Linked DNA regions of Homo sapiens: region 2 is linked to region 1. The links come from fine-mapping of genetic effects on gene expression. A gene starts in region 1. The other region holds a variant in brackets. All regions are shown on one strand. Distances are from middle to middle.

Region 1 (16,585 bases):
TCACTACAGTGGCAAAGTTGAGTAATTGCGACAGGGACCATATGGCTAACAAAGACAAAAATAGTTACTATCTTGCTCTTGACAGAAAAAGTTTTCCTACTCTTGATCTAGGTCACACTAAAGCTTTTAGTCATAAATGCTATCCTAGGGCTGGGCGCGGTGGCTCATGCCTGTAATCCCAGCACTTTGGGAGGCCGAGGCAGGTGGATCACTTGAGGTCAAGAGTTCAAGGCCAGCCTGGCAGACATGGTGAAACCCCGTATCTACTACAAATACAAAAATTAGCCAGGTGTGGTGGCAGGCGCCTGTAATCCCAGCTACTCGGGAGGCTGAGGCAGGAGAACTGCTTGAACCTGGGAGGCGGAGGTTGCAGTGAGCTGAGATCACACCACTGCACTCCAGCCCGGGTGACAGAGTGAGACTCCATCTCAAAAATAAATAAATAAATTAAATAAATGCTTATCCTGTATGTAATGTTGAGCCATGGAAGGATTTGGAGTAGGGGAGACACATGGGCTTATTTCAGAATTACAAAAAAACCATTCTCAGATCCATCCTAGCACAGGGCACTCCCATGATAAAGGCATCAACAACACAATTCCAAACCATCTTCACTTCTCAATCTTTCACCTTGAATACCATTTCAACAAATATTAATTGAGCATCTAGTATGCACCTATACTCTATGTAAGTGGTTAAAGCTGTAAGCAAGCAGTAAGGCTTGAAACTTAAAGCTGGTGGAAAGTAAACTGAGGAAGTGAGCTTTCTCTTTGAGAGATCCAATGGAAGGAAGACTATGTACAGAAGGACAGCAGCCAGAGGTTGCCTTAGAACACAAACAGAGCTGAACTTCTTGAATCAAGCAGGTTTTTTGGGTTCCAGTGGCAGAAACGGACTTTGGCTAGCTTAAAAGAGAAATCACTGGAAGGAACTGGCAAAGGGGTGGAGTTCAAAGGATTAAAGTGAAGGCTGGAGAGTGGGTTTGGGAAAGAGTGAAGCCTGGGAAACCAAGAGATTTCTGTATCATGAGCCACTCAACACTCTCACCTGAAAAGCATTAAATCTGCTTCTTCCACTCTTGCTTTACTCAATTCGAGATTTAAAGTGCCAGGTAAGCAGTCTGATTAGCCTGGCTTAGGACAAAGGTTGGTTGGCTTTAGTGTAAAAATAAGGATCTGGTGCAAGGAGCTTTGAGGGACCCTGCTTGCTTTTCATTATGAGAAAATGGGCACGTGCATTAACTATCCCACCAGGACCACATACAGTGGAGCAGAGGTAATTCTTCCAAAGGAAATCAGGGTATAGAGACTTAGCAGCTAAACAAGTTCACAAATGTCAATCATACCTGTATAGATTCAAATCCTACCTCTTCCAATTATTGGCTTTGTTGACTTTGGGCAAAGTTATCTCATTTGCAAAGAGAAATTATAATACTACCCAGCTCTTAAAATTATGAGCTAATAGATATGAAGTGCTTAGAACCACGTCTGGCACATCATAATCACCCAATTAAGCTTAACTGCTGAGAGTATTATGATTATTACTGCATGCTTGCTAAAAATAGCACCAAGTGATAGAGCCCACGGTGAGATCTAGGCCCTCATTCCAAAGCTCCCGCTCTTTCTGCCAAGCCAAGCTGCCTTTGCAGATCCAACCTCAGTTAAATGAGATGATAATGTGTGTGAAGTTGTTGGGGCAGGTGCCCAAAGAGGATGCTCAATTACTGTCCAAGACTTTCTTCCTCTCTCCCCAAAGAAGTGAGTAGGCTTAGGCTTTGCTTTCTGCTTGGGAGATGCCCCCACTTTTTTTTTTTTTTTTTTTTTTGAGATGGAGTCTCACTCTGTCACTGAGGCTGGAGAGCAGTGGCGCGATCTCGGTGCCTGGTTCAAGCAATTCTTCTGCCTCAGCCTCCCGAGTAGCTAGGACTACAGGCACCTGCCACCATGCCCGGCTAATTTTTTGTAATTTTAGTAGAGACGGGGTTTCACCATGTTACCCAGGATGGTCTCGATCTCCTGACCTCGTGATCCACCTGCCTTGGCCTCCCAAAGTGCTGGGATTACAGGCGTGAGCCACGGTGCCTGGCCGGAGATGCCCATATTTAATAGAGAACCAAGTGGGTGTAAGAGGGCCCAGGGAAAGCAGACAAAGAGGAATGTTCCTGGTTTGTGCTTACTATCATTCTCACGGCGGAGCCCACTCAGGTTTGTTGACAATCTGGCCCCTGCCTACCACTCTAACCTCTCCTCCCTCCACATTCCCATGAGCTTACCCTGCTCCATCCACAATGATCTTCTTTCTGCGTGTCAAATTCCTTCTGCTTTTTTCTGCCTCGGGGTCTTTGCACAAGCTGTTCCCTCTGTCTAAGCTACTCTTACCCCAGATCTTCATTAGGATCTAAACTCAAATGTGACCATCTCAGTGAGGTCTCTCCTGACAACTCTAGCTACGGCAGCATCTCAACCCCATCGGTCTCTAACACATGGCCCTATTTCAGTTTCTTTGCAGCAATGACCAGTACATGAAATTATATATGTGTTTGTCAATATTGTTGTTTGTCTTCCTACACCAGACTATAAACTCCACAGGGTTAGAGAAAGTGCATCCCCAACACCGAGACTGCTTGGTTCACAGAGGGTGCTTTTACACATATGGCTCTGTCAGAACTGTCATAGCAACCCTGTTAGGTATATAGTCTATTAAGGCTGAGAGGCGCTTAGTATCATGATTTAGAGCAGCACTGTCCAATATATGTAGCTATTTAGATTTACCACGTAGCTATTTAGATTTACATGCTTCATAATGAAATAAAATGAAAACTTCATTTCCTTAGTTGCATTAGCGTCACCTCAAGTGCTCAGCAGCCGCACGTGGCTAGTGGCCACCATTCTGGGTAGCACGGATACAGGACATTCCTATCACTGCAGAAAGTTCTACTGGACAGGGCTGGTTTAGAGCATTCACTGCAGATTCATATACTTAGCTTCGAATCCCAGTCCTGCCAATTACTAGTGGTGTGATTCTGAGTGGACCTTATGCTTTTAGATCTCACTTTTTTCATCTATAAAATGACGCTAATAACAGTTCCCATCTCATAGTGTTGTAGGAGTTATTATAGGCAAAGGCTCTTAGAAGAGCATCTGGGATGTAGTCAGTGCTAGAAAAAGTATCGACTGTTGCTATGACACCTCCATTTTTACTCCCTGAGAAACTGAGGTCCAAAGAAAAGAAATCCTTGTCCTAGTGCACACAGCCAGGAGGTGGAGGGAGCTGAGGTTTGATCCCGCACCTCTATGATTTCAGAGCCTGGCTAAATCCGATGACACTTTTCAGGTCCCTTCTGGGAAAAATCCCTGAAACTTCTGACCCATTGCTCCCTTATCTGTTTAGTGGGGGACAGAAGACTCCAAGGGCTCCTCTATCTAGGATAGATGTGAAGGAACTGACTGGAGAGCCAGCCAGAGCCCAGGACATGGGTTGTCTATTCTAGGACCTAGTCAGTGGCTTGGGACTCCTTGGGGGTTGGGAAGCCAGGCTGCCCAGGACACAGAAGCATTGGTGTGGCTGAGCCAGTCATGCCAGCTGCAGCCGAGACCCCTTGTGTGGGCGCTGCCCCTGTGGGTGTAATGGCCCCTGCGGCAGGGACAGAATGCTCATCCCTCCCACCTGCTCAAGCTCTGGGACTGCCCCAGGAACTGTACAGAGGGGTTGAACTATTTCCACTTGTTTCCCTGTAGAAGCCTCAGATGCTGCTGCTGCTGCTGCTGGTTTAATTTTTAAATTTAGTTACTTTTAATACTTTTTAAATTTAGTTACTTTTAATATGCACAGTCCCTATGCTTGTACTGTTTTCTTTGTTTTGTTTTGGTAACATGGGATTTTTAATTGCTATTTTTAGAGCTTTTAACACATTTTTCTACATTTAAAACTTTTTTAATTGAGGTAAAATTCATATGATATAAAATTAACCATTTTAAGTGTACAATTCAGTGGCCTTTAGTGCATTCTCGATGTTGTTCAACCGTCACCCACATCTAGTTTTAAAACACTTTCCTTACCCCTCACCCCATCTCACTAAGCAGCCATTCCTCTTTCCCTCCCCATTCCTAGTCCCCGACAACCACTATCTACTTTCTGTCTCTAAGGATTTACTTGTTCTGGATATTACGTATCAATGGAATCATACACTAGGTAGTCTTTTGTGTCTGGCTGCTTTTACTTTGCATAATATTTTCAAGGTTCACCCATGTTCTAGCATGTATCAGTACTTGATTTCTTTTTACAGTTGAATAATATCCTATTATATGGCTATACCACACTTTACCCATTAATCTATTGATGGACATTCGAATCATTTCCATATTTTGACTCTAGTGAATAGTGTCGCTGTGAACATTCGTGTGTGAATATTTGTGTAATTACCTGTTTTCCGTGCTTTCGGGTACATACCTAGGAGTGGACTTTCAGGGTTATACGGTAGCCCTATATTTAACTTTTTGAGAAACTGCCAAACTATCTTCTACAGGGGCTATACCAATTTACATTTCCACCAGCAATGTATAAGAGCTCCAATTTCTCCACATCCCCTCAATATACTTTAAAACATTCACAATTATATGGCATAATAATATAATAATTAATGATAATAATTGTTGCTATCATTAATAGGAGGAAACCGAGGCTCAGGGATATAGTCAATTGAGCAAGTTTATGCATCTGTGAGGCAGGCAGAATAATTGTCCCTGAAGATACCCACATCTGACTCCTGGAACCTGGGAGTGTGTTACTCTCAGATGTGATAAAAATAAGACTGTTAATCAGCTGACCTTGTGGGGAGATTATCCTGGATTACTGGGGTAGGTCCAATGTAATCACAAAGGATCTTGTAAGTGAAAGAGGGAGGGAAATGGGTAACAGAGGGAGACGGAATGATGAAAACAGAGAATCAGAGCAATGTACGGTGAGAAAGACTTGACCGGCCATCGCTGGCCTGAAAATGGGAGAGGGTTGGAGAGAGATTTGAAGACGCCATGCTGTTGGTTAGGAAGATGAAAGAGGCCGACCAGGAGTCAGGAATGTGGGCAGCCTGTAGAAGCTGCAGAAGGCAAGGAAACAAATTCCTCCTAGAGCCGGCAGAAGGAATGTAGCTTTACCAAGGCTTTTCACTCTATCAACCCATTTCAGACTTCTCAATTCCAGAACTGTATGATAATAAATCTATGTCGTCTTAAGTCACAAATTTTATGGTAATTTGTTATGGTAGCAAGAAGAAACTCAGGCCAGCCGTAGTGTGGTGGGGCAGGGATTGGCATCCACACTGGATTGACTCAATGTCTGTGATTCTAACTGATTGGCTGTCTGTGACTATAACAACCAGGTTTTTTGCCGTCTCCAGGTCCAGCACCACTTCCCTGCTCCACATAGACATGAGTGGATCTCACAAACATCACGCTGGGTGAAAAAAAAAAAAAAGATCCCAGCACTATGGGAGGCCGAGGTGGGTGGATCACGAGGTCAGGAGTTCGAGACCAGCCTGGCCAACATGGTGAAACCCTGTCTCTACTAAAAATACAAAAATTAGCCAGGTGTGGTGGCGCACGCCTGTAATCCCAGCTACTCAGGAGGCTGAGGCAGGAGAATCGTTTGAACCCAGGAGGCGGAGGCTTGCAGTGAGTTGAAATCGTGCCATTGCAATCCAGCCTGGGCGACAGGGTGAGACCCCGTCTCAATAAATAAATAAATAAATACATACATAGCTAGCAAGTTGTGCAAGAAAGATTCAGTGAAACACCATTTAGAATAAATGTAAAAACACACAAAATAATATTACATACGTGTACTGGAGCCAGCTTATGAGGGTCAATTGTTAACGTTTTCAGTTTTCTACATTTAAAACATTTTTAAATTGAGGTAAAATTCCTCATTTTAGCTGCTTGCCTAACATAGCCCAATACTCAAAACTAAATTGTATAAACTTGAACATAAATAAGTTATAATAAAAATAGAGTAATAAGCACTAAAAGCTCATCACTTCCTAGTTGTGGCTCCCCAAACATGGTGGCGGTGGTGGTTGGTGTGGGGTGGGTGGGGCAGGTGCTACTGTGTAATTGATAGGGACCAGAGATGTTGCTAAATATCCCACAAAGCGGAAGACAGCCCCCACCACAAAAACGATCTAGTCCTAAATGTCAGCTGTGCCAATGGTGAGAAATCCTGATCTTCCCTAAAGCATGAGTTCCTCATGAGCAAGGCCAGTATCTGACTCATCTCTGTCCCCAGATCACAGTCTGGCAGAGCAGATAATGCTAAAGAATATTAATGATGTTCTACATCCCAGGCATTTGTTGCATTTAAACCCTAGTGTTATGAGTTAGGGACTGTGATTATATTTGATAAAGCAAAGAAACAGCTGTGCTGGTAATGAGGCTGCTAAGGAAGGATGGAAAATCGAAACGTAGGACTAATCAGAGAAATCCAAATATGCTCCCCCAACCAATCACAATGGCCTCTAATTAACCACTGCCAGCTTCCTTATGCCAACGGCCTCCAACCAGGCACTCTTGAAGCCTTCCCTTTCTTTCACTATAAGCTTTCCCACTACCCTGCCTGCCTTTGAGTCTGTGCCAAACACAAATGGTGTCAGTGGCCTCCCTTATTACAGCAAGCTCTGAATTAATAGCCTTTGCTTGTTTTCATTGGGTGGTCTTTACTTCCGCATAGCACCGGATGTGAAAAGCCTTCCACATGTTTTACGCCTTGTTTCTTCTGCTCATTATAACAAATCCTGTAGTATCACGTTTTCCCGGTGATGAGTTGCCAGGACCATGTGCTCACAAAGGAGGGGAGCTCTGAAATATGGCAAATGGCCAACAAGAACTCTCTCCTCCAGCCTAGTCTGAAGGATCGCTGAGGTATCCCCTAATGTACATGAGATGGTCCAGCTTGTACTAGGGATTGAAACATAGATAGCACCAGAGATGGCGGCAGGAGAGAGTCCCCTGCAAGAGTGGACATCCCTCCACACCTGGAACTCTTTCCTTCCAGGACACTACACACAACCCTCTGTTTCTATCAGGCTTGAAGGAAGTACCATAGAAACCTTCAGAGCTTAGATAGACCAGTGGTCTCTACACTCTGCCTTTATTCCAGGAGTCCAGAGGGATACTGGGTCAAGTTCATATTCCCACTGACAGCTAAAGTTCTTGACTGTCAAAGCAATTTCTAAGAATTACCAGTGGAAACAGTTAGTTCCCTGTGGCTGCTATGAAAAATTATTACAAACTTAATGGCTACAACAGTACAAATTTACTATCATACAGGTGTGATATGATAGTATCACATTAGCCTGGAAATATCATTATCCCAACTTTATAGATCAAGAAAATGAAGCACAGAGTGGTTAAGTAACTTGCTCAGGGTACATAGCTAGTAAGTGCTAGAGGTAAGTATAAACGTAGACATCTTTGGAAAGGAATATACACAAAAATGTAAAAACAATACTTACTTCTGAGTAGAAATACGATAGATGTTGTTTGCTTGCTTTGTTGTTTTTCTGAAATTTACAGTACGTCTAGGACAGGGGTCCACAAACGTTTTCTATAAAGGGCCGGACAGTAAATATTTTAGGCCTTTTGGCCCAGATGGTCTCTGTCACAACTACAAAGCTCAGTCTTGCAGCCTGAAAGCTGCTGTAGACAATACATAGTGAAATGGCATGGCTGTGTTCCAATAACACTTTATTCATGGACACTGAAATTCACATTCTATATAATCTTCATGTCATGAAATATTTTCTTTTGTTTTTTCCCTCCAACCATTAAAAAAGGTAACAATTACTCTTAGCTCATAGGCCCTACAAAAACAGGAGGAGGGCAGGATTTGGCCAGCAGATCATAGGATGACAAGCATCACACTCAGCATGAAACTGTTCTAAAATGTTGCTTTAAGATGAAAAAGCAGATACAGTTCTTTGGTCAGCAGTTGGTGGCGTGGGCACAGGTCTGGAGACCTGCCAGCCTCCAGGCAGGCTAGAGGGCAGGTGTGGGCAGTTAGTTTTGTCCCTGGAGCCTGGGAAGACGGTGGGTGACCAGAGAGTCCTGTCTATCCTAGGAGGAGAACATTCAGCCCAAATCCCAGCCCCATCATGCACAGATCAGAGCCATTTCTGAAAATGTCGCTGCTGATTCTGCTTTTCCTGGGATTGGCAGAAGCCTGTACTCCTCGTGAAGGTAATGCTTCCAGCCATGCCTTGTGTCCTCTATGTATTTTCTTACAACTTGGGAGGCTCTTGTGGGCTGGATTCAGAGAGAAGCTCCTGAAGTCTAACAGACTTCTTCTTGCTTCCCATTTAGACATTCACATTTCCCTTGATGGACACAGTGGGGTGAATGAGTCTAGGTTGCTAGCCCCTGCCCTTGGAGATACACTTGTGTCTGCATCCTGGTTTCTATCACTGATTCTGTGACTTTGGGGAGACACTGCGTCTGCAAACCTTGCTGTCCTCATCTGACCAACGGGGCTCACAAGAATCCCCAGTTCATGGGACTGTTGCATGTCATTGACGAGCTTACGTTGTGCAGTGCCTGGAAGTCAACATTACCATAGTTAGATAATTCTAGTGAGACTCCAGACTTTTGCGACGTAAAGACACCAAAGAGTATATTGGGAAGAGGACTTGGGTCTTGCCATAACTCTGAGTTCCCATTTCCTCATTCGATCCACAAATGTTTATTCCTGGTTCTTTCCACGGGCTTGATGCTGGGAATATAGTGATGAAAATAGTTCTGTCTTCATGGAATTCTCATGCTAAACACACACATTCTAGTGTGGGGATTCGGAGATGGCCTCTCTAGAAAAGTCACATTTGAGGTAAGGAATAGGAGCTGGCCAGCTGAAGAGTTAGGAGAGACTATTCCAGGCAGAGACTTGAATATGCAAAGGTCCTGGGGCAGAAGGCACTGAGTCCCTCCATCAGAGAGAGGCCGGTGTGTCAGGAACGTGGTAGGCAGAAGGAGGGGCATGGTGGTGAGACTGTTACAAGTAAGAAGAGACAGGAGGCAGGAAACAGAACAGACGGGGGCATGTGAGTCACAGGAAAAATGTTGGATGTTATCCTCAGGGAAAAGGAAGCTGTGAAAGGGTTTTCAGCAAAGGAGTGTCATATTTAGGAGCGTGTGTGTGCATGTATGTGTGTTTCTGTGTGTTTAAACAATGTGTCTTGCCCTCAGGAAAGAATGGATTAGGTGGGAATCAGATTAGGGGCAAACACACAAGTTAGAAAACGTTTTGGTCATCAGGGTGAAGATGGGGATAAGTAGAAGGTTACGAGGCACTGAGGAAACAGCTCACAGGATTGAGTGATGGGTCAGATGCTGGTGGTTGGGGATAGAGAAGCATGCAGAAAGGCTCTCTTTATACATACATGTATTTGCAACTGGGGAATTGAGGCTGCCCTTAACTGAGATGAGAAAACTCTGTAGAGGTCGGGCGCGGTGGCTCACACCTGTAATCCCAGCACTTTGGGAAGCCAAGGCAGCTGGATTATTTGAGGTCAGAAGCTCAAGACCAGCCTGGCCAACATGGCGAAACCCCATCTCTACTAAAAATACAAAAATTATCCAGGCATGGTAGTAGGGGCCTGTAATCCCAGCTACTCAGGAAGCTGAGGCAGGAAAATCGCTTGAACTCAGGAGGTGGAGGTTGCAGTGAGCCGAGATCCTGCCATTGCACTCCAGCCTGGGAAACAGAGCAAGACTCTGTTTCAAAAAGAAAAAAAGAAAAAAAAAAAAACTCTGTAGAGGAACACGTTTTTTAAAAAATTTATTTTGAAATTATTTTAGACTTGAGGAAAAGTCACAAAAATTAAGTTTCTGAATATTCTTCACCCAGTTATCTCAGCTGTTAACATCTTACCTAACCATAGCACAATGACTAAAAGCAAGACCCAACACCAGAACAAAACTATTAAAGAAATTACAGACCTCATTCAAATTTTACTAATGTTTCTACTAATAGAAAAACTATTCTATTTGAGGATCCAATCCAGGATCCCACCTTGTATTTTCAATTAAGTTTTTTGTTTTGTTTTGTTTTGTTTTGTTTCAGAAAATCCAGCTCTTGCTCAACCATGTTGCATTTTGTTATCCCATCTCCTTTGGTCTTGTGATTTGTCCTTAGGATGTGTGATTGAACCTCCTCAATCTTTGTCTTTCACGACCCTGAAACATTTGAAGAGCTCTGATCAGTTGTTTTGCAGAATTTCTCTCAATTTGGGTTTGTCTGAAGCTTTCTCATGATTGGATTGAGACTATGCATTTAGGGCAGGAATACCACAGAAGTGGTCTCACACCCTTCCCCGGGAATTATATCAGGGACCACATGATGTTGATGTGTCTTATTACCCATGGTGTAAACTTTAGTCCCTCGGCTAAGGTGGTGTCTGCCAGGTTTCTCCACTGTTAAGTTACTATTTTCCCCCTTTGTAATTAATAAATACGCTGGGGGAGAAATTTTGAGGCTATGCGAATACCCTGTTCTCCTCCAATTTTTGCCCATTAATTTTAGCATCCATCTGTGGATCTTGCTGCAGAAATGATTGCTACAGTGCTTCTCCAATGGTGATTTTCTATTCCCCTTATTCATCTACATATATTCAATGGCCTTTCTCTGTAAGGAAAAGCTGACTTTTCTTCTCCATTTATTTATTCAAGTACTGTATTTATTTATATCAGCGTGAACTCAGGGATATTTATCGTATTGGTTGGGTGCAGTGGCTCAAGCCTTTAATCCCAGCACTTCGGGAGGCCAACGCAAGAGGATCACTTGAGGCCAGGAGTTTGAGACCAGCCTGGGCAACATAGTGAGACTCATCTCTACAAAAAATAGTAAGAATAAATAAAAAGTATTGCATTAACAGATTATTTTTTGATGGATAGGAGTGTGATGACCACAGATTCTTTTTTGAACAGGCTAAGCTTGAAGCACCTGTAAGATGTTTGGGACATCCATAGATAGCAAGTTCTGTGAGAACAGAGTTTGGGGTGTCTAGTGTACTCTTATACCAGAACTTCTCTTCCCAATCAGCCTTGCAAATACCTACAGAGCAGGGGCTGAATCTGATTTATCTGCGTCTCCAACACCAAACATGGGCCAATGCCCAGAGCATGTACCATGTGAATGTTGGTTGGATGGATGATGAACGAATGGACTTATCGATGGATGGATGGGCTGATAGATGGGCCCGAGTAGCTTTATTGATAGCAGTGAGTGGGTCAGCTGATCTCCAGGGACACTTCTATCTCTGGTCTTCTTGGTTATTGCACTGATCTGAGTCTAATGCTAATTTCTCTCTCTGCTCCCTGCTCCCGTTGTGAACTGGCTGGCTGATGCTTTTGTCTCCAGTTGCAACTAAAGAAAAAAGTAAGAACCGTGGAACCCCCAAGTCTGTATTTTCATAGCTACCTCTCCTAAAATTCTTTTCGATCTTGCAACCTCTCTGGCAATTCTGGGGAAGGGTGGCACTTGGATCTGGTGCACAGACCTGCCATGGGGTCTGGACATGACTCAGAAAAGCAAACCTATTGTTTGCTTACAGTGATGCTCACAACTAAAAGAGCAGCCCTCCTTCACTCCTTTGTCTGGGGAAGAGAGGCCTATTCGGAAAATGAAGAGCATTTATCAGGGAAGAGAGACTTCGGGCAGATCTCCATTAGAATAACACCTTGGCTTATGTTTAACACCAGCTGGTGGTTTGCAAACTTCATGGTCTTAGGGCCACTGAACACGCGAAAAAAATTATTAAGGATCTAAAGAGCTCTTTTTTTTTTTTTCCAGTGAGGGTTATTTTTATTTATTTATTTATTTTTGAGACGAGCCTCGCTCTGTCGCCCAGGCTGGAGTGTAGTGGTGCGATCTGGGTTCACTGCAACCTCTGCCTCCTGGGTTCAAGCGATTCTCCTGCCTCAGCCTCCCGAGTAGCTGGGACTACAGGCTGCGCGCCACCATGCCCGGCTAATTTTGTATTTTCAGTATAGACGGGGTTTCACCATGTTGGTCAGGCTGGTCTCGAACTCCTGACCTCAGGTGATCCGCCCACCTCGGCCTCCCAAAGTGCTGGGATTACAGGTGTGAGCCACTGTGCCCGGCCAAAGGTTATCTTTATTGATATTTACCTTATTGTAAATTCAAGGATTTTTAACTTAAAAATATTTATATTTACAAATATTATAAATATTTACAAATACAAATACTTATATTTACAAAAACTATTTCTATTTACAAATAAGCACATAAAAAGATGCTCAACCTCATTAGCCATCAGAAAAATGGAAGCCAAAGCCACAGTGAGGTATCACTTCACACTAACTAACGTGGAGAAATCAGAACCCTCATATGCTGCTGGTGGGAATGTGAAATGATACAGCTGCTTTGGAAAACAGTCTGGCTGTTCCTCAAAATGTTAAACACTGAGTTACTCAGCAATTCCGCTCTAGGTATGTGCCCAAGATAAATGAAACGTAAGTCCACACAAAAACCCATGCACAAATGTTCACAGCAGCACTATTCCTAAGAGCTAGCAAGTGAAGGTAATCCTAGCATGCATCCATTAATGAATGGAGAAACAGAGTGTGGTCTATGCATACAATGGAATATTATTCACCCATAAAAAGAAACAAAGTTCTGATGCATTCAACATCGTGTGTGAGCCTTGAAAACATTATTCTCAGTGAAAGATGCCAGTGATAAAAGATCACATATTACCTGATTCCGTTTACCGTATATGAAATATTCAGGATAGGCAAATCCATAGAGACACAATGGACATTAGTGATTTCCAGGGGGTGAGGGGTGGGGGAATTTAGAGACAATGACTAAGGGGTTCAGGGTTTATTTTGGGGTGATTAAAGCCTCTAAAACTGGTGTAGTGATGGTCGTACAAGTCTGAGTATCCTACAAACCACTGAAATGGGTGAATTGCATGGTATGTGAATTATATCTCAGTAAAGCTATTATTCAAATATCTATTACTGCATTAAAAAAATAAGGATAATAGAGACTCAGAAGGAAGGAGGGTGGCAGGGAGGTGAGGGATGAAAACTACCTTTTGGGTACAATGTACATTACAAAGATGCTGGTGCACTAAAATCCTAGACTTCACCACTGCACAATTCATCCATGTCACCAAAAACCACTTGTACCCCTAAAGCTACTGAAATTAAAAATATTTGAAAAATAAGGATAATAAATATACATACTGACATAAATAAAATGTTTTAGTGAAATGGCTGTTTCCAAACCAAAAAAGTTTAGTAAGAAAGGTATTATTTTACATTTTTGCAAATCTCTTTGATGTCTAGTTTAATAGAAAACAGCTGAATTCTCATTTCTGCTTCAGTCTGTCACAATGTGCTATTTTTTTTTTTTTTAGCTTTATGTGTTTGTTTATTTTGGAGACGTAGTCTTGCTCTGTCGCCCAGGCTGGAATACAGTGGCACGGTCTCGGCTCGCCATGACATCTGCCTCCTGGGTTCAAGCAATTATCTTGCCTCAGCATCCGAAGTAGCCTCCCAAGTAGCTGGGACTATAGGTGCATGCCACCATGCCTGGCTAATTTTTGTATATTTAGGAGAGACAAGGTTTCACCATGTTGGCCAGGCTGGTTTTGAACTCCTGACCTCAAGTGATCTGCCCACCTCGGTCTCCCAAAGTGCTGGGATTACAGGCGTGAGCCGCCCCGCCCAGCCACAATGTGCTATTTTGGTTGAAGCAAATGAAAATCTAATCTCACACAGATAAGGAGTTGGAAAAGGGAAGATCATGCAGACCCGTTTTAGGCAGAGTTCTCCAGAGAGACAGAACCATGAAGATATACATATAGATACATATATAGATAAAGATATTGATAGAGATATTTGAGAACAAATTTCTTAGGGGAATTAGCTCACTCAGTTGTGGGGTCTGCAAGCTGCAGAACCAGGAGGGCCAGTAGTGTGGCTCAGTCCAAGTCTGAAGGCCTCAGAACCAAGGAAGCTGATGGATGGTCTAACTAACTCTCAGTCTGAGGCCAATGGCCTGGGAGCTCAGGGAGCTGTTGGTTCAAGTCCTAGAATCCCAAAAGCTGGAGTACCTGGAGTTCTGACATCCAAAGCCAGGAGAAGGGCATCCCAGCTGCAGAAGGGAGAGCAAGAATTGACCCTTACTCCACCTCTTGGCTTCAGCTGGGCCTCCATCCAACTGGATGGTGCTCACCCACCGTGAGGGTGGATCTTCCCTACCTAGTCTTCCAACTCACACCCCAATATCCTCCAGAAACACCTTCACAGACACACCTGGGGCAGCCCAAACATTCTAATCAAATGCCAAACCACTCAGGCTTCCCTTTCAGCAGAAGACGGATGGACTCAGTGCCTACTGAAGCATTGAGAATAAACGTCTTACTGCTATATGGGTGCCTTAGTCAAGCTGACACCCCAAATCAACCATCACATCCCCTGAAAGGATCTCAGGGACCACCTCCCACCCCCACCAAGTAGTCTTTGGATGATACTTCGAGAATTTCTGCTCCAAGTCACATGGAAGGGAAAAAGATCTCTTTTTTTTCCACCCCTACTAGACTGCAAGACTGTAAGTTCCTAGAGGGCAGGGACTGTACTTTACTCAATCTGTTTATTCCTATAGCCTAGCAAAATTCCTAGCGCTCAGTAGGACTAAATAAATGGAAAGAGCCTTGCAAAATGGAAAGGACTGTGAGAACATAATTTAATGCTATTATTTCAGGTTGAAAGGAGATAAAAGGATCCAATATTAATTAAGCATTTAGCATGTACTGAGAATTTAAAATACGTCATGCAATTTAATTTTCAAAATCGTAAGTGTCCCATATGGGGTCTGAGGTTTCCAAAGCTCTGAATCCTCACACTGGACCATCATCATGAGAATCACATGGGAAACTTTAAAAATATTTAATCCCCACACCAGACTTGGTGAGCTAAAATGCCTGCAGATAACATTTTGGGTTTTTTATACCTAAAAAGCTAGCCTATGTTAGTTCCTTCCTATCTTCAAAAGCTGAACCTTCTAAACCTAAACAAATGCAAACATCTCATGATCCACACTGTTTTTGTTTCAATTTAAAATATTATGCTGTTTTAATTAAAATGTTTTATGTTAAATTATTTTATTAATATTTCAATTAACAAAACAGTATTTACATAAACTTTAATTACATTTAAATTACTAATTAATTATTCAATTTAAAACATCATGTTATTTTCATTTAAAATAAGATTTCCAGGGTTCAGAATTAAAGAAGTTCTCAAGGTTATACTGGAAAAAACTCCTTCCCAACCTATTCACTCATTTCCCTTCCCCGAAAGAATCTGATATTAATTATTTCTTCCAGATCCTTCCAGAGATATTTTATGCAAGTAGAAACAAATGTGTATTTATATATTCAAAGTCCTCTTGTTTCTATTTTTACAAAAAAGACAGCGTATTATACACACTGTTCTGTATGCACCTTACTTTTTTCACCTAATAATACTTCCAGAAGATGACTCTGTGTCAGTTCATAAGGAGCATCCTCAACCTCTTATTTATACGTTTTTGGCTGAATAATATTTCTTGTATGGAAGTCCACAATTTGTTTGACCAGTCACATACTAATGGCCACTCAGGTTGTTTTCAGTAGTTTGCTCTTTTAAATAATCCTTCAAAGAAAAATTCAGCTTACATGAAATTAGACATATAGGATATATATCAATGTAGATCTACATATTTATATCTGTAGGATTATACATGGAAATATGTAGAATTATATCTATATATAGATATATATTTCTTTATCATCTAGATATAACCACTGTCGTAGTCTGTTTTGGGCTGCCATAACAGAATACCTGAGACTGGATAATTTATAATGAATAGAAATTTATTGGCTCATGTTTCTGGAGGCTGAGAAGTCCAAGATTGAGGGGTTGGCATCTTGTGAGAGCCTTCCTGTTGTGTCATCCTATGATCAAAGGACAGAGAGAGAGACAGAAACAGAGACAGAGAGCTCAGAGCTTCAAGCCCTTTTATAACCAGCATTTATCTATTCATGAAAGTTGAGCCCTTGTGACCTAAATACCTCCCATTAGGCCCCACCTCCCAACACTGCTGCATTTGGGATTAAGTTTCCAACACATGCTGTTTGGGGTACACACTCAAACCATAACACATACACATTTGACCCTTGAACAATGTGAGAGTTAGGGGCACCAACCTCCAGTGCAGTTGAAAATTCACATATAACTTTTGACTTCCCCAAAACTTAACTACGAATAGCCTACTGTTGACCAGAAGACTTACTAATAACATAAACAGTAGATTAACATATATTTTGTATGTTACATATATTACATGCTGATTCTTACAATAAGGGAAGCTAGAGAAAAGAAAATGTTATTAAGAAAGAGAAAATATGTTTACTCTTCATTAAGTGGAAGTGGATCATTATCAAGGTCTTCATCCTTGTCATCTTCACAATGAGTAGGCTGACCAGAAGAAGGAAGGGGAGGGGTTGGTCTTTCTGTCTCAGGGGTGGCAG
Region 2 (16,585 bases), 31 kb after region 1:
TATTAAAAAACAAAGTTCAGAAAACAACAACGGGTGGTGGGATGGAATGTGCCACCCCTGGATGAGTATGTAGGTGCCTACATTAGAGTGACACAAAATACATGGAAAAAAGGCCTGGCATGGTAGCTCACACCTGTAATCCCAGCACTTTGGGAGGCTGATGCGGGCGGATCACCTCAGGTCAGGAGTTCTAGACCAGCCTGGCCAACGTGGTGAAACCTCCGTTTCTACTAAAAATACAAAAATTAGCCGGGTGTGGTTGCGGGTGCCTGTGCTCCCAGCTACTCAGGAGGCTGAGGCAGGAGAATCGCTTGAACCCGGGAGGCAGAAGTTGCAGTGAGCCGAGATCGTCCCACTGCACCCCAGTCTGGGCAACAGAGCAAGACTCCGTCTAAAAAACAAAAAACAAAACAAAACAAAAACAAACAGAAGAGATGGGAATGGCGTGGCGGCTTCCTTCCCAGCCTAACCTTGCTGCGGTGCAAATCCTGCAAGTCACTGCACGTCCCTCCAACCCACACGAAGCAGCCTCTGACTGTTCTGCGCTGTTCACTGTGGCATGTCCTGACTACTCAGCACGACCCACCCAGGGCTCCGCTCTCCTGTGCTCCCATCGCTCTGTCTTCTGATGTTGTGATTTTTCCCTACATGTGGCCTCCTCTTCCACGGCTCCTGGGAACTCCATACTCTGGGCCTGTCTGCTCCCCTGACCTGTCTTGCTTCCTGGACCCCATCTCCTTCTGGATGGACATCATCAGAGATCCTAGGTGACACCTCACTCCATGCCTGCCCCGGGACTCTGTAGGAAGCTGGTTTGGGAGGAATGCTTTTTAGGGCTGGGCAGGGTGGTGGAAAGCTGAAAGATGGATCTGACAAGCTCACACCCTCACGTCAACTCACAGTCTAGTGGAGGTGGGGAGATGGAAAAGTAACAGGCAGTTAAACTACAACAGGAATCTGTGTGGCACAGGGGGGAGGTGGCAGTGGGGACAGTGTGCAAGAGGACGATGCGGGCAATCCAGCAGGGCTTCTCGGAGGAGGAGTGGCTTGGGGCGAGCCTGCTGGACCTGCTGGTCTGGAAGTGTTTATCATGCTGTCCCTTCTGACTCGCGTTGTATGCCCCTGTCCTCCTTAGGCTTGCTGAGCCTCCAAGTACTGCATGGTAAGTCTGGTGACTGCTATTTCGTGTTCACTCCTGTGCACAGAAATATACAGGTACTGGTTTTTTCTATGGTGGGGGGTCCCTTAAATATCATCAGACCCTACACTCTTTATCCGTATCATCATCTGCATCATAAATGTTTAACATGTTTTTATTTGTCCAACAGATATTAACTGATGTTAGCTCTCCTGTACCAAATGTTATTCTAGGTGTTAGAGATGCAGCAGAGGATAAAACAGACAGAAGTCTGTGACCAAGTGAAACTTGTATTCCAATCAGAGGAGAAAAAACAAAGAGCAGTAGTTATAGGTCTGCTGAAGGCTATTATGTCCTATGGAGACAATAGAGTAATGGGGATGGAAACGCAGTGCGGGAAACTTAAGTTTTTTGGCTGGGCATGGTGGCTCATGCCTGTAATCCCAGCACTTTGGGAGGCCGACGTGGGTGGATCACCTGAGGTCAGAAGTTCGAGACCAGCCTGGCCAACATGGTGAAACTCCGTCTCTACTAAAATACAAACAATTATTTTGAAACAAATTTTGTAAACATAGAAAAAATTAGCTGGGCATGGTGGTGTGCACCTGTAATCCTAGCTACTCGGGAGGTTGAGGCAGGAAAATCACTTGAACCTGGGAAGCAGTGGTTGCAGTGAGCCGAGATCATGCCATTGCACTCCAGCCTGGGTGACAAGAGCAAAACTCTGTCTCAAAAAAAAAAAGTTTTTAAAGGGCGATCAGGGAACATGACATGTGAGCAAAGGCTTGAAGAAGAAGGGCAGGTGAGCCAGAGATAACTGGGGGAAAGGCATTCCAGGAAGAGAGAACAGTATATGCAAAGGCCCTGAGGCAGCTGAGTCCCTGGGATCCAGGGACACAGGGAGACTAACTTTATTCTCTTCTCTCCTCATTCGAGGCACCTGGAAGCACTATTTAGAGTTTGGTCTCCACCCACTTCATAATTCACCTGATGGTTTCTTTTCTTTTCCTTTCTTTTCTCCTCCTCTTCCTCTTCCTCCCTCCCTCTCTCCCTCCCTTTCTTCCTTTCCTCTTCCTCTTCCTCCCTCCCTCTCTCCCTCCCTTTCTTCCTTTCCTCTTCCTCCTTCTCTTCCTGCTTCTTTTTCTCCTCCATCTCTTCATTTTTAGAAGAAACAAGTGGCTGCAAGGAGGAAGGTAAGTGCTTGGGGTCGTACCATTCCTCATCTATAAGACAGTGTGTCCCTTCTGTCTGGGCTATGATAAAGCCTTAGAAGAGAAGATTTCAGGTAATCAAGGCCCTGCAGGGGCTTTGGTACCTGAGAGGCTGCCTTCCTGAAGGGCATCCAAAGTCTGCAAGCCACTGCCCCTTTCACACTGCTCATGGGCATCGAGGAGACCCAACATACTGAGATGTGAGTGGGAGACATTTCTATCCCAGCTGCTGCTTCTGTGGACTGTGAGTCCTCTCTTCCCGACATGGAAATTACCAAGCTAAGTCCTGGGTGATAGGACTGAGGGCCGGAAAACCAGAAAATAGCAGCAAGCCACCAAGTGATCCAGATGGTGGAGATGAGCGTTTTAAAGTAGGCAGAGCCGGGCATGGTGGCAGCACCTGTGGTCCCAGCTACCCGGGAGGCTGAGGCAGGAGGATTATTTGAGCTGGGGAGGTGGAGGCTGCAGTGAGCCGTGATTGTGCCACCGCATCCGGCCTGGGTAACTGAGCAAGTCTCAAAAAAAAAAAAAAAAGCCAGAACAACACTAATGGTTGGTTCTTTTGAAAAGCGTAATACAAATTTAATCCTCTAGCATTACTGACAAGAAAAAATAGAGGAGAAACAAACTGCCAATATTTGGAAGGAAGAAGAGAGTATCATAGCAGATCTTGCAGGTAACAAAATAACAATAAGGTGATCATTGGAGAAACTTTATGCCAATAAAATTGAAAGTTTAGATAAAACGGACAAAATCCCAAAAAAACACAAATTACCAAAAACAAATGAAATGATATAAAAAATCTGGGCTGGGCGCGGTGGCTCACATCTGTAATCCCAGCATTCTGGGAGGCCGAGGCAGGCGGATCACAAGGTCAGGAGATTGAGACCATCCCACCCAACATGATGAAACCCCGTCTGGTGAAACCCCGTCTCTACTAAAAATACAAAAAAATTAGCCAGGCGTGGTGGCGGGTGCCTGTAGTCCCAGCTACTCGGGAGGCTGAGGCAGGAGAATCACTTGAACCTGGGAGGCGGAAGCTGCAGTGAGCTGAGATCGTGCCACTGTACTCCAGACTGGCAACAGAGCAAGACTCCATCTCAAAAAAAAAAAAAAAATCTGAATAATCCTCTATCTATTAAAGAAATGCCACCTGTAATTAAATAGCCTTACCACACACAAAAAAGTCTTTCAGGATCAAGTTAGCTTTAATAGTGAATTAAAAGGAAGAAATCACATTGATCTTACAGGAAATCTTCCAGAAAATTAAAAACAGTCATTTCCCAACTCGGTTTTAGGACAGAATAACCTTGATAAAAGATCTGACAAATACGACAAAGGAAAATTTCAGGCCAATCTTCCTCATAAATATAGATGGAAAATCCTAGACTAAATATTAGCAAGTGCAATTTGGCAATACATGTTAAACAATCATGACTAAATTCACTTTATTCCAGCAATGCGACAATGGTTTAATAGGTAAAAACAAATATATGGTATTCCCACCTTATTAACATAAAAGAAAACAAGCACATTATCATTTCAGTAGATACAGAAAAAGAATATGGTAAGATTTTACAGCTTACATTATTTTTTTTTTGAGACACGGTCTAGCTTTGTTGCCCAGGCTGGAGTGCAGTGGTATGATCACGGCTCACCACAGCCCTAAACTCCTAGGCTCAAGTGATCCTCCCCTCTACAGCCTCTGAGTAGCTGGGACCACAGGCACGAGACACCACACCCAGCTAATTTATTAAATTTTTTGTAGAGTTTGGGTCTCCCTATGTTGCCCAGGCTGGTCTCAAATTCCTGGGCCCAAGTGAGCCTCCCGCCTCAGATTCCCAAAGTGCTGGAATTACAGACATAAGCCACCATGCCCAGCCTTGTTCATGATTAAAAAAAAAAAAAATCTCAGCTAGCTAGGAGTAGAGAGAACAGCTTAATATAATAAGGAATAGCCACCAAAAACTTACAAAGAACAAGCTGTTTAAGGTAAAACACAGTTGTCCCTCAGTATCCTCAGGGGTTGGGTCCAGGACCTCCCCGCAGATAGCAAAATTCCTTGATGTTCAAGTCCGTGATATAAATAGCATAATGCTTGCATTTAACCTATGAACAGCCTCCTGCACACTTTAAATCATCTCTAGATTACTTATAATACAATGTAAATGCTCCTTAGTTATTGTACTGTTATATTTTTGTATTGTTTTTATTGTTGTATTGCTATTTTTATTGGGATTTTAAAAAGTATTTTTGACCAGTTTTTGGCTGGGTCCTCAGATGCAGAGTCCAGCGACACAGAGGGCTGAGGGTGTAGAACATGTTCCCTCTGAGATCACAGATGAGACGTTCTTGCTATCACCACTTGCATTTCACATTGGACTGAACGTTCTATCCAGTGCAAATCCTAGCCAGGCAAGAGAAAGGTAATAATAGGCAAAAGGATTGTGAAGAAAGAAAGATGAGCCTCATTTTTTATAGATGTGATTGTGTACCTTTGATTGGGAGGGTATATCTGAGAGGCTTGGGATATGCTGGTGTTGGTGAAATATAATTAAAAACAAAATATCCTCCAAACCCAGAGCTCTTCTCCACCCAGGTAGAAGAGAAAGAAAATAGTTTTATTAATGGGTAAGCATTAAACCAGAACATGATATGCGAAGAGACTGCAAAGACAGAAAAAAAAAATTTCACCCTTTTATATAGCCAAGCAGATACAACTTATTACATACCTGCTCTCAAGATAAACAACAGCTAGTCCTCAAGTTAAAGAACTTGACAGCTCTATTTGCTGTACATGGTTCACCGTAAATTCACTTGGTTATTGGGATAGCCAACTGTGTTTGTTAATTGGCTTAATCCAAGGGAAAAATAAACTTCTAGTATCTTTATCACAGGAGGTAGATTTGCTACTTGGGGTGAGGTGCCCACCAAAGTTAGGCTCCATCCCCTCCCAACAAGAAGCTGGGGAAGATGTTTCGAGGTCCTTGAAAACACCCTCCTGGGTCATAATGCTGGCCGCAGGCTTACTTAGCTTTGAAAAAGATTAGTGTAAACGTTGAAGAGAGAGAGACTTGCAATGGCAAAATTTTCTAAAGTAAATGCTCTAAGCAAAGGGGACAAGGAGTAATCGCTTCCTGAATTTTCAACAGGGAGAATTCATTTTTTTTCGTTTTCGATTTGCATTTGCCTGTACACTGGTAATGTTTTATTTTTTGATTGGAAACCTGTTTAGACAGACAGGTTTACGTGTAAAAAAAAAATGAGATTTTCTGAATGTAATACTTTTAAAATAAAAAGACAAGGGAAAAATGTTACACAGGCGAAAGAAACACTCTTGCACCTCATGAGGTTTGACATAAGAAAGCGACACGGTCGGATCTGGTGCTAGAAAGATCCTGCTGGCACTCATGTGGGAGATGGATGAGAAAGAGAAAGGATGGCGTAGTGGGCAGAGGCAGCCATCAAGAGCAGAGCCTGAAGCCTGGGGATGGGGGAGAGGTGGTGGTTTTGTTACCAGAAAGGGGTCCCGATCAAGACCCCCAGAGAGGGTTCTTGAATCTCGTGCAAGAAAGAATTTGAGGCAAGTCCATAAAGTGAAAGCAAGTTTATTAAGAAAGTAAAGGAATAAAAGACTGGCTACTCCATAGGCAGAGCAGCAGCAAGGACTGCTGGACTGAGTCTCCTTATAGTTATTTCCTGAATATATGATAAACAAGGGGTGGATTATTTATGAGTTTTCCAGGGAAGGAGTGGAGATTTCCTGGAGCTGAGGGTGCCTCCCCTTTTTAGGCCAGTAGGGGAACTTCCTGAAGTTGCCATGCCATCTGTGAACTGTCATGGTACTGGTGGGCGTGTCTCTTAGCCTGCTAATGCATTATAATTAGTATATAATGAGCAGTGAGGACCACCAGAGGTCACTTGAATCGCTATCTTGGTTTCGGTGGGTTTTGGCAGCTTCTTTACCGCAACCTGTTTTATCAGCAGGGTCTTTGCGACTTGTATCTTGTGCCAACCTCCTATTGTCATCCTGTGACTAAGAATGCCTTAACCTACTGGGAATGTAGCCCAGTAGGGCTCAGCCTCATTTTACCCAGCCCCTATTCAAGACGGAGTCACTCTGGTTCAAACCCCTCTGACAGTTTGGTGAGAAATCTGGGCAAGACAGGGTCAGATTTGGTGATGTCTTGGATGTGAGGTGGGAGAGCCAAAAGGCATTCCTGACTGTTTGTCTGGAGTATGGTGGTAACCAAGAAGGGGGAAGCTGGCAGTGATGGTGGGTGTGGACCAAAATTTCAATTCAGGAGGCAGGCAGAGATGTGAGTTTGGAGATCAGAATGGAGAGACAGCAGTGACAGGAAGCTCTAAGGCAGGAAGGGAAGGCCATCAGCATCAATCATCTCCACGGTTCTCTCCAGTTAAACCCTTCTCAGGCACCACCCCATCCAGGAAACCACTCCCCAAGAGGAAGAACACGTGGAACTTCCTGAAATGCGCCTACATGGTGATGACCTACCTCTTCGTATCCTACAACAAAGGGGACTGGGTAAGAAGAAGGCAGCACGGAGGGGAGGAGTGTGAGGAGAGGAAGGAAAGAGGAGGGAAGTGGGGGCACAGAGGAAGCGAAGGAGGGTGCCTCAGAGGTGCCAAGCAGGAAGTGGTGGGAGAGCCCTTCTGTAAAACACTCTCTTCTTCCCACTCTCCCACCCGCCTCCATCTCTCATTTCATTCTTCCTTCCTCTCTCCTTCTTCCCTCTTTTCTCCCTCCCTCCCTCCCCTTCCTCCTTCCCTTTCCTCTTCCTTTTTTCTTCCCTCCCTTACTTCCTCCTTCTCTCTCCTCCCTCCCTATTCTTTCCTCCTCCCTTCATCCCTCCCTTTCTCCCTTCCTTCCTTTCTTCCTCTCTCCGTCTGCTTCCTCCCTCCCTTCTTCCTTCCCATCCTTCTTCCCTCTCTGCCCTTCTTTCCTTCCTCCCTCCCTCCCTCTTCTTCCTCCCCGTTCCTCCCTCCCTCCCCCCTTCCTTTTCTTCCTCCCCCTTTTCTTCCTCTCCCTCTTCTTCCTCTCCCTCTTCCTCCCTCCCTCCTCCTCCCTTCCTTTTCTTCCCCCCCTCCCTGTTCTTTCCTTCCTCCTTCCCTCCTTCTCTCTCCTTCCTTCTCTTTCCTTCTTCCCTCCCTCCCACCTCTAGACTGGGATAAAACTTCTCCCTTCTGCACTAACACAGCCCCAGGGGCTCCTTTGAAATACTGTCACTCATTCTGCCTCTCTCTCTGCCGCTGTCTCTTGTTCTTTCTAAGGGACGTTCATAAGGACCAAGCCTGTTGCTGGTTGCTGGGGACTCTGATGGTTGAGCTACCTTCAAGAAGGTCCTAATTCTGTAAGGGAGGCAGACATCCACAGAGAGAACCAGATCACCGAGTGGTAGCACTTCATGAGCAGGTGCTAGTGCAGGAGGCAGTGGCGCTTATCTCAGCCTAGGGGAAGTGTGGGCTCATGGAAGCCTTTCTGCAGGAGGTGACACCTCTG[C/G]TGTGGGTTAAGGACAGAATGGAATTAGCCAATTGAGGAGGGGAAGCAGGGGAAGCATTCCAGAGAAACACCATGTGCGAGACTCAGAGAGGTGAAAATAAGGCAGGGTGCAAGAAACTACAAGCCAGGCCGGGCACGGTGGCTCACGCTTGTCATCGCAGCACTGTGGGAGGCTGAGGCGGCTGGATCACGAGGTCAGGAGTTCAAGACCAGCCTGGTCAACATGGTGAAACCCCGTCTCTACTAAAAATACAAAAAATAGCCGGGCATGGTGGCGCATGCCTGTAATCCCAGCTGCTCGGGAGGCTGAGGCAGGAGAATCACTTGAACCTGGGAAGCAGAGGTTGCAGTGAGCCAAGATCACACCAGCCTGGGTGACAGAGTGAGACTCTGTCTCAAAAAATTAAAGTAAATAGAAAAAAAAAGAAGGAAAGGAAGGAAAGGAGGGAGGGAGGGAGGGAGGCAAGACGGAAGGGAAGGAGGGATGGAAGGAAGGACAAGTCATCCTTCATTCATTGATTCAGTCAGTCTTCAAATATTCACGTGTGTAGAGGACCCATCCTAGATGCTGGGGACTCAGAGAAGAACGGAACCCATAAGGTCCTTGAGTCCCCAGGGCTCCCATGTTTGGGATAGCAGGAGGACTGCAGAGAAACAAGCAGCCAGCTCCAAAAAACATGAACTAAATCAGGGTGATATCACAGAGTGAGCAGCCATGGCCACGGGCAGCCTTCCCCGGGCAGGTAACGTCTGGACATAAGAGATGAGACAGTGGAAGGATCTTGCCTTCAGAGCAGCTTGGGGGCAACCACTGCAAGCAAAGCAGGCATGCACAGCAGACCCTGAGGCAGGAACACACTGAGTACCTTCGAGGAACCAAAGGAACATCTATGTGACCTGAGAGGGGCAGGGGGGTCCAGGTCATGTAAGGTTCTCATAGACCACGAGAAGGAAGCTTGTGTTCTAAGCTAGTGGACAGCCGCCAGCAAGATCCCTTCTGAGTTATCAAAGGATCCTTCTCAATGCTGCCTGTGGAGAGTGGATCGGAATCAGGGCGAGAGTGGGAGCAGACAGACTGAGAGGAGGAGACACACTGAGAGGAGGCCCGACCAGCCAGCGCAGGGGACCTGGCGGTGCTCATGGAGATGAGAGCCGTGCAGCAGTTCTAAAGGAACTGCTTATGCGCTGGGTGTGAGGAATAAGGAAAATGGAGAGACCAGGGAGATGAGCCTGAGACAGTGACTTCAGTTATGCTAGTGGTTCTGAAACGGGGGTGACGTTGCCACCCAGGAGACACTCAGCAGTGTCTGGACCACAGGATTGGTTGTGACAGCTGGAGGAGGGAGCTCGACTGGCATCCAGTGGGCAGAGGCCAGGGAGGCCACTCAACCTGCCATACGGCCCAGGACAACACGCCACGACAAAAATAACCCAGGTCAAAACGTCAGGAACCTGAGGCTGAGAAACCCCAGCTTAGGGGATTGTGCTGCTTATGGGGATGAGGAGAACTGGCTGGAAGATGGGGAAGAAGGTGGGAGTGGTGAGAGGCGGGCTGAATAGAGAAGCAAGACCAGAAGATGTTACAACCAGAGGGAAAGAGCAGAGGGGGAGGACGGGAAAGAAGCGAGAGGGGGATGGGGAGAAAGGGAGGTAAGGAAGGAATTCACTCGCCTCACCCCAACTGTTTCTTTCTCTGTTCCCAGTTCACTTTTTCCTCCCAAGTGTTACTGCCACTACTGTAACTTGGAACTGGACATCAGGTATGCTATGGCAGGGAAGTGGGCTTTTCCCACCGCTGGGGTGGGGTTAGGGGAGGTTCATCCCAACTGCCTGGCATTTGAGGTAAGGAACACAGGTGGATTTGGAAGCTGCAATCATAGAAACCCAGAATTCCATGAGAAGTCCCAAGTTCGTCACCCTTACTTGCAAGCCACTGCCTGACAGGGGCAAGGAAACACATTGTAAATGACAGGGATGTGCCGGGCAGGAGGAACTCCTTTATAAATTCACTCTATAATTTTTTCACAAGTCTTAGGACTTGTGGCCCAACACACACGACATAAAATTAACCATTAGTGACATTCAGTACACTCAAAATATTGTGTGGCCATCACCACTAATCTGTTTCCAGAATCTTCTCATCATCCTAAAAGGGAACTCTGTACCAAGACATCGTCTCTTCCCCCTGTTCCTGGCAACCACTAGTCTACTCTCTGTCTCTGAGAACTCACCTACTCTGGTCATTTCATACACATGGAATCATACACTACGTGGCCCTTTGCATCTGGGTTTATTCATTTGGCATAATATTTCCAAGGTTCATCATGGTATACCTTGTATCAGGACTGTATTCGTTTCTGCTGGATAACACTCCACGGCATGGACATAGCACACTTTGTTTATCCATCATCAGGTAAAGTGCACTGGGTTGCTCCCACCTTTTGACTGTTGTGAGTCGTGGTGCTATGAACAAGTTATGTTAGAATATCTGTTTTAAAATCTTTTGGGGTACAAACTAGGAGTGGAATTGCTAGGTCATATGATAATTCTGTGTTTATAACGACCCACTGATGCATCCTGGATGCAGTAGTGAACGGGGCAGACAAGATTCCTGAGCTCACAAGAAAACAATTAGATGATTACAGGTGATACTTAGAGCTAGAGGAAAAGCTGAGGATATGATGAAAAAGAGAACTAAAGAACCTTGCCCTGGATAGTTGGGTGATGAAGGAAAGCCTCTTTAGGAAAGTGACAATGAATCAAAGGCCTGTAGAATGAGGGGTTGTCAGATACACAGAAAACAAGTGAAAGAGCCTCCAGGTGAAGGAACTGGCTTGTACGAAGGCCCTGGGGTGGAAAGTGGCCTAGATGTGCCTGGAGTCAGAAAGAAAAATGGGGGCAGGAGAAGGGGGAGGGAGTGGGAGGGCACTATGGGAGGAGTGTGGGTGACATGCTCAGCAGACCACCTCAGACCTGGAAGATTAGAGCAAGCATTTTAGACCCAACCTTCAGAGCCATGGGAAGCCACGGAAAGGCTGTCAGTGAGAAAGAGACACGTCCCAGTGACATGAAGTGTAGAGGCCAGTTAAGAGGCTACTCAGTTTCCACGAGATGACGGTAGCCTGGTCAAGGCTAGGGTCCAGGGTACGGAGAGAAAGTACGAAAGACAGATGGGAGGTTTCTCTTCCCTCGATAGCTGCAAAGAGGGTCCCCCTGGCCTCTCCCGCATCGCCAGAGAAAGTACTAAGGACAGATGGGAGATTTCTCTTCCCTTGATAGCTACAAAGAGGCTCCTCCCTGGCCTCTCCCACGTCGCCAGAGAAAGTACTAAGGACAGATGGGAGACTTCTCTTCCCTCGGTATCTGCAAAGAGGGTCCCCCCCGGCCTCTCCCCTGTTGCCAGAGAAAGTACTAAGGACAGATGGGAGATTTCTCTTCCCTTGATAGCTACAAAGAGGCTCCTCCCTGGCTTCTCCCACGTCGCCAGAGAAAGTACTAAGGACAGATGGGAGATTTCTCTTCCCTTGATAGCTACAAAGAGGCTCCTCCCTGGCCTCTCCCACGTCGCCAGAGAAAGTACTAAGGACAGATGGGAGACTTCTCTTCCCTCGGTATCTGCAAAGAGGGTCCCCCCCGGCCTCTCCCCTGTTGCCAGAGAAAGTACTAAGGACAGATGGGAGATTTCTCTTCCCTTGATAGCTACAAAGAGGCTCCTCCCTGGCTTCTCCCACGTCGCCAGAGAAAGTACTAAGGACAGATGGGAGATTTCTCTTCCCTTGATAGCTACAAAGAGGCTCCTCCCTGGCCTCTCCCACGTCGCCAGAGAAAGTACTAAGGACAGATGGGAGACTTCTCTTCCCTTGATAGCTACAAAGAGGCTCCTCCCTGGCCTCTCCCACGTCGCCAGAGAAAGTACTAAGGACAGATGGGAGACTTCTCTTCCCTCGGTATCTGCAAAGAGGGTCCCCCCCGGCCTCTCCCCTGTTGCCAGAGAAAGTACTAAGGACAGATGGGAGATTTCTCTTCCCTTGATAGCTACAAAGAGGCTCCTCCCTGGCCTCTCCCACGTCGCCAGAGAAAGTACTAAGGACAGATGGGAGATTTCTCTTCCCTTGATAGCTACAAAGAGGCTCCTCCCTGGCCTCTCCCACGTCGCCTGCCTTTCATCCTCTCCCTGGCATCCCCAGTGCCCTTTTTACATTAAAAAATGTCAACTCGATCATACGATATACCCCCACCCCCTGCTGCAGTCCTGCTTAAATCCACCAGTGGAAACTCACCAACTATGATGAGTGTCTTTCAAACTTTAAAAGAAAGAAAATCCAAAACACTTTTCTACTGAAATCTTACATGGAATCCCAATATATAAAAAATTCTAAGTTGCTTTTCATTACCAGAGGTACTTTTCCTAAGGTTAACTGTGTGACATTTACTTATTATGAAGTGAGGTGATGAGATTTGCAAGCACAGGGTACAGAAGGCCTCTGCTGTCTTACGTTACTCTCTTTTACCCCGTATCTTGCAGTGTTTCCTTTTAATTGTTCATACGGAGAAAAATCTGAGCCCACAGAGATAAGTCACTGCAAATGCCTAATAGTTTGCCTTGTGAAGTGTACATGCCCTTCAGGTAATACAATTTTTTCCCCAAGGTCTGTATGTAAAACATGCAACAGGTTGGTGTGGCTCTCCAGTGAATAAAAATTTCAGTCCATGTGCTATATTTTGGGTACACACCTATTTTAAAAAATAGTTTAATTTTTGAAATGAAAATCAAAGCAAACCTTTGTGGAATTCCTAAAAGATCCCAAGTTTTCAGGGAACCTGGCAGGAAGCCTCTGCCCCATTGATCAAGTTCAGGTCTCTGGCATGGTACCCAAGGGTTCTCAGGCTCCAAGCTCCTCCTGCTTCTCTAAACTTTTCTCCACTTCTCTTGATCCCCCCACCCACATTCCATCCCCTGTCCATATTAAACCTTTTTTTTTGAGACAGGGTCTCGCTCTGTCGCCAGGCTGGAGCGCAGTGGCGCAATCTTGGCTCACTGCAACCTCCGCCTCCCGGGTTCAAGCAATTCTCCTGCCTCAGCCTCCCAAGTAGCTGGGACTACAGGCGAGTGCCACCACGCCCAGCTAAGTTTTGTACTTTTAGTAGAGACGGGGTTTCACCATGTTGGCCAGGATGGTCTCGATCTCTTGACCTTGTGATCCGCCCGCCTCGGCCTCCCAAAGTGCTGGGATTACAGGCGTGAGCGGTGGCTCCCAGTCTTTTTTTTTTGAGATGGAGGCTCACTCTGTCACCCAGGCTGGAGAACAGTGGCCCAATCTCAGCTCACTGCAACCTCTGCCTCCCAGGTTCAAACGATTCTCCTGCCTCAGACTCCCAAGTAGCTGGGATTACAGGCATGCACCACCACACCTGGCTAATTTTTGTATTTTTAGTAGAGATGAAGTTTCACCATGTTGTCCAGGCTGGTCTCGAACTCCTGACCTCAGGTGACCCACCCACCTCGGCCTCCCAAAGTGCTGGGATTACAGGCATGAGCCACCACGCCCCCCCATATTAAATCATTTCTGATTCCCCCCAAAACATCACATTTTTTTTCCCGCTCCATTATGCCATTGCACACATTGATTCCTTGATCTCTGTCTACCTAGAAAAGTCCTCCTCAGTCCTCAAGATTCACCTAAGCAATGCTTTGGTTCAGGAACCAACAGCAATCCTTCAGATTCCACTGGGGAGGATGCTGAAGGAAATGAATGGTGTTGAACGGTTTCTCAGGCTCTCTTCAACCATACATTAAAGCACCGGTCAAACCAGATAGTTATTTTCATATAAAGGTGTGCTTTCAACCCATTAGGCAAGAGGTTGGCAAACTTTCTCTGTGAAGGGCCAAATATTACGTGTTGGCTTTTCAGGTCATATGGTCTGTTGCAACTACTCTAGTCAAAGCAATCGTAGAGAATACACTGATGGCTGTGACTGTACCCAACAACTGATGAAAGGATAAACAAAACGTAGTGCATTCATACAATGGATTATTATTCAGCCCCCAAAAGAGGAATGGGGTCCTGGCACGTGCAACAACACGGCTGAACCTTGAAAACACTGTGCTGAGTGAAAGAAGCAGACACAAAAGATCACACAGTAGATGATGCCATGTATATGAAACAGACAGATCTGGCAAATTCAAAGAGACAGAAGGCCAATTACTAGTTGTCAGGGGCTGAGGGGAGGAAGGAACAAGGGGAGTGACTGCTTTTAATGGATTTCTTTTTTGGGTTGATGAAAATGTTCCACTCTTAGAAGTGACAATTGCACAACATGGCGAATGTAATGAAGGCCACTAAATTGTGCCCTTTCAAAATGGTTAAAATGGTGAATTTTATGTTATGCATTATGTTTGCATTTTACCTCAATTACAAAAAGAAACTTTATTAAAAGGGATGCAGGCTGCAGTTGGCCCTGCGGAACACAGTTTGAGGGCCCCTGCTCACATAGACTGTGAGCCCCTGTGGGAGCAGGAAGTACCCCTGATCCATCCCTGGAACTCCAGCACCCAGAAGCAAACCTTAAGGTTCTCTTCCTGCAACTCTGAGTGACTCCAGCACACCAGGCTAGGGGGTGCAGCCCAGCCAGGCCTGGGCAGTCCCTGCTCCTGCGGGGCGCGCCCTCTAGTGGGAGGTAGGGGTGCAACACAAGCTCAGGCCCGGCGCCGGGACAGTGAGGAACTGGAGGGGGCGCTGCTTCCCACTGGCTGGTTTCTAGAAGAGCCCTGCTCTGAGGAGGAGACACTTGCCCTGGTGATGGGGCAGAGCTAGGGTCCATAAGATCTGAGGGAAGCGTGTTCCAGCTGCTGGAACAGCCCGGTGGGAATAGGGACAAACTTGGTGGAACCTAGTGAGTGGGGAGAATGGGCTAAGCTGGAGGGAGGAGGTGGGCTTGAGGCAGGTCACAAAGAGCCCTGTAGAGGTGGATGGAGAGGGCACCAGGCAAGGAGTATGAGAATGCATGAAGACGAAAATCAATGCACAAATACATTTCTCTCTCCTTTCTTAGGGATGATCCCTGCTGTTCTTTCTAGTGAGCCTGCTCCATCTCAGCTTAGCCTTCACAAGGCCTCCATCTCCCAGGCATTCTAACCTCTGAAGAAAGCTCTCTGTCCCCTGGACTGCCTGTGTGGAGGGTAATGAACTGGGTCCTTTAAGGAATGGCACCTGGGTGCCCAGAGGCATGGCCAGAAGGTGTCTGTGGGGGCCATGCCTTAGGGGGATGCACCCAGGGCGGCTGAGAGAGCAACTGCAGGAGTTTCCCCTAAAATCTCTCCTCCAGATCGTTCTCGAACTTTCCCCACTACTTCCATAATAAAATGTATACTTGTTGAAATGGCTGAAAAGGCTGGGTTATTCCATTCGCCCAACACTGAAAACTAACAGGTATGCTGGTGGATTACCAAGAATCAAACGCTATCAGTTAACTGTGCACTTTACAGGTGAAGACACTACAGCTCAGAGAGACCGATGGCTCGTCCAACATCACACTAAGCTACACAGCTGAGATTTGACCCAGTTGGACTCATTCCAAAGTCCGTATTCTTTTGTGTAAAGATTTGGGGCTGCCCCCACCGTCCTGAGGAAATACAGTTGTGAGGATATGGCTGTTCCAGGAGGAAGCCGTATCCAGCTCTCCAGCCTGCATGTTTCTTGCCTATTCTGGAGGAGGTTCCTTGTCCTGGTTGAAAGCTTTGGCTCTGGAGACAGGTTTCTTGGGTTCGAATCCCAGCTCCACCCCTTAATAGATATGCAGGCTTGGGGAAGGTATTGTCTCTTAATGCCTTATTTTATCATCTGTAAAATGGGGATAGTAACAGTAGGGTAGAAGTTCTCTTATCATCATGATCAGAACCATCACTGGTTGGTTCATCAAATAAGTTGGTTCCAATAGGTAATTAAAAATACTTTTACCATTTTGTTTTAAAACATAAAATTGTACAGGCATTTGCTAATCTTTTGATATAAGACCAGGGGGTTTCGTTGTTGTTGTTGTATAGGTCTATGGACCTACAATTTCCAGTTTGTCCCTTAAAAGGGCAGCGGAGACACAGGCATGCTTGCAAAGCTATTTAAGCAAAATCCTCACTGCATTAAAAAAAAGAAAAAGATCATCCCTATAGCCATCTTGCTCATTCCAACTTGACATATTTTTTGTTGTTGCTCTTATTAACAATCGGCCTTTATCACATCTTTCCCACTGAATTACTGTTTTGGGTGGAAACAATTCTTTGCTGATGCACTCATATTTTCCTCATTTATGTTAAATGTAATTGCATTACATAATTGAAATAAAATCCATTAGAATGAAAAGGTTTAGAATAAATGCAACTCAACTAGCTCTGGGTAGTCACACAACTGAACCAATAGAGAAGAATGAAGGCATATTAGAAAGCACTGCACTAGCCAGGGGCATTCAGTGAGCCTGAAGCATCAGTTGGTATATTTCATAGACGGATGGAAAATTCTTTTACCCCAGGGATCATTTTAAAGTGGAGTTTAAGAAACAGTCTACTGAGTTTGCCTCATAGAGGTAAAGTTTAAATGAGATAATATATATATATTTTTAAGTTCCACGATACATGTGCAGGCTGTGCAGTTTTGTTACACAGGTAAATGTGTGCCATGGTAGTTTGCTGCCCCTATCAATCCATCACCTAGGTATTCAGCC

The links. PIP is the estimated chance that this variant, and not a neighbour inherited with it, causes the effect.
Region 2: its variant is fine-mapped to the expression of EDDM13 in whole blood (TOPMed, PIP 0.97).

What each region holds. Positions count from the first base shown.
Region 1 is chr19:56,264,692-56,281,276 of GRCh38, forward strand. It overlaps EDDM13 (epididymal protein 13), which reads left to right and starts at 8,057. Exons shown (of 15, transcript NM_001354658.2): 1 at 8,057-8,228; 2 at 11,401-11,418. The coding sequence starts at 8,144. The region is part of intron 2 of ZSCAN5A (zinc finger and SCAN domain containing 5A); the gene reads right to left. It overlaps LOC124900420, which reads left to right and starts at 8,057. Exons shown (of 5, transcript XM_047439799.1): 1 at 8,057-16,585.
Region 2 is chr19:56,295,201-56,311,785 of GRCh38, forward strand. The region is part of intron 2 of ZSCAN5A (zinc finger and SCAN domain containing 5A); the gene reads right to left. It overlaps EDDM13 (epididymal protein 13), which reads left to right. Exons shown (of 15, transcript NM_001354658.2): 10 at 759-767; 11 at 1,136-1,162; 12 at 2,305-2,331; 13 at 6,768-6,895; 14 at 9,593-9,630; 15 at 14,924-15,254. The coding sequence ends at 14,948. LOC124900420 reads left to right here. Exons shown (of 5, transcript XM_047439799.1): 5 at 1-15,254. The coding sequence starts at 11,041. The coding sequence ends at 12,159. Among named protein-coding and RNA genes, the nearest start is that of ZSCAN5A-AS1, 11 kb to the right of the region's middle. The variant C/G (reference allele first, on the strand shown) is at 7,871.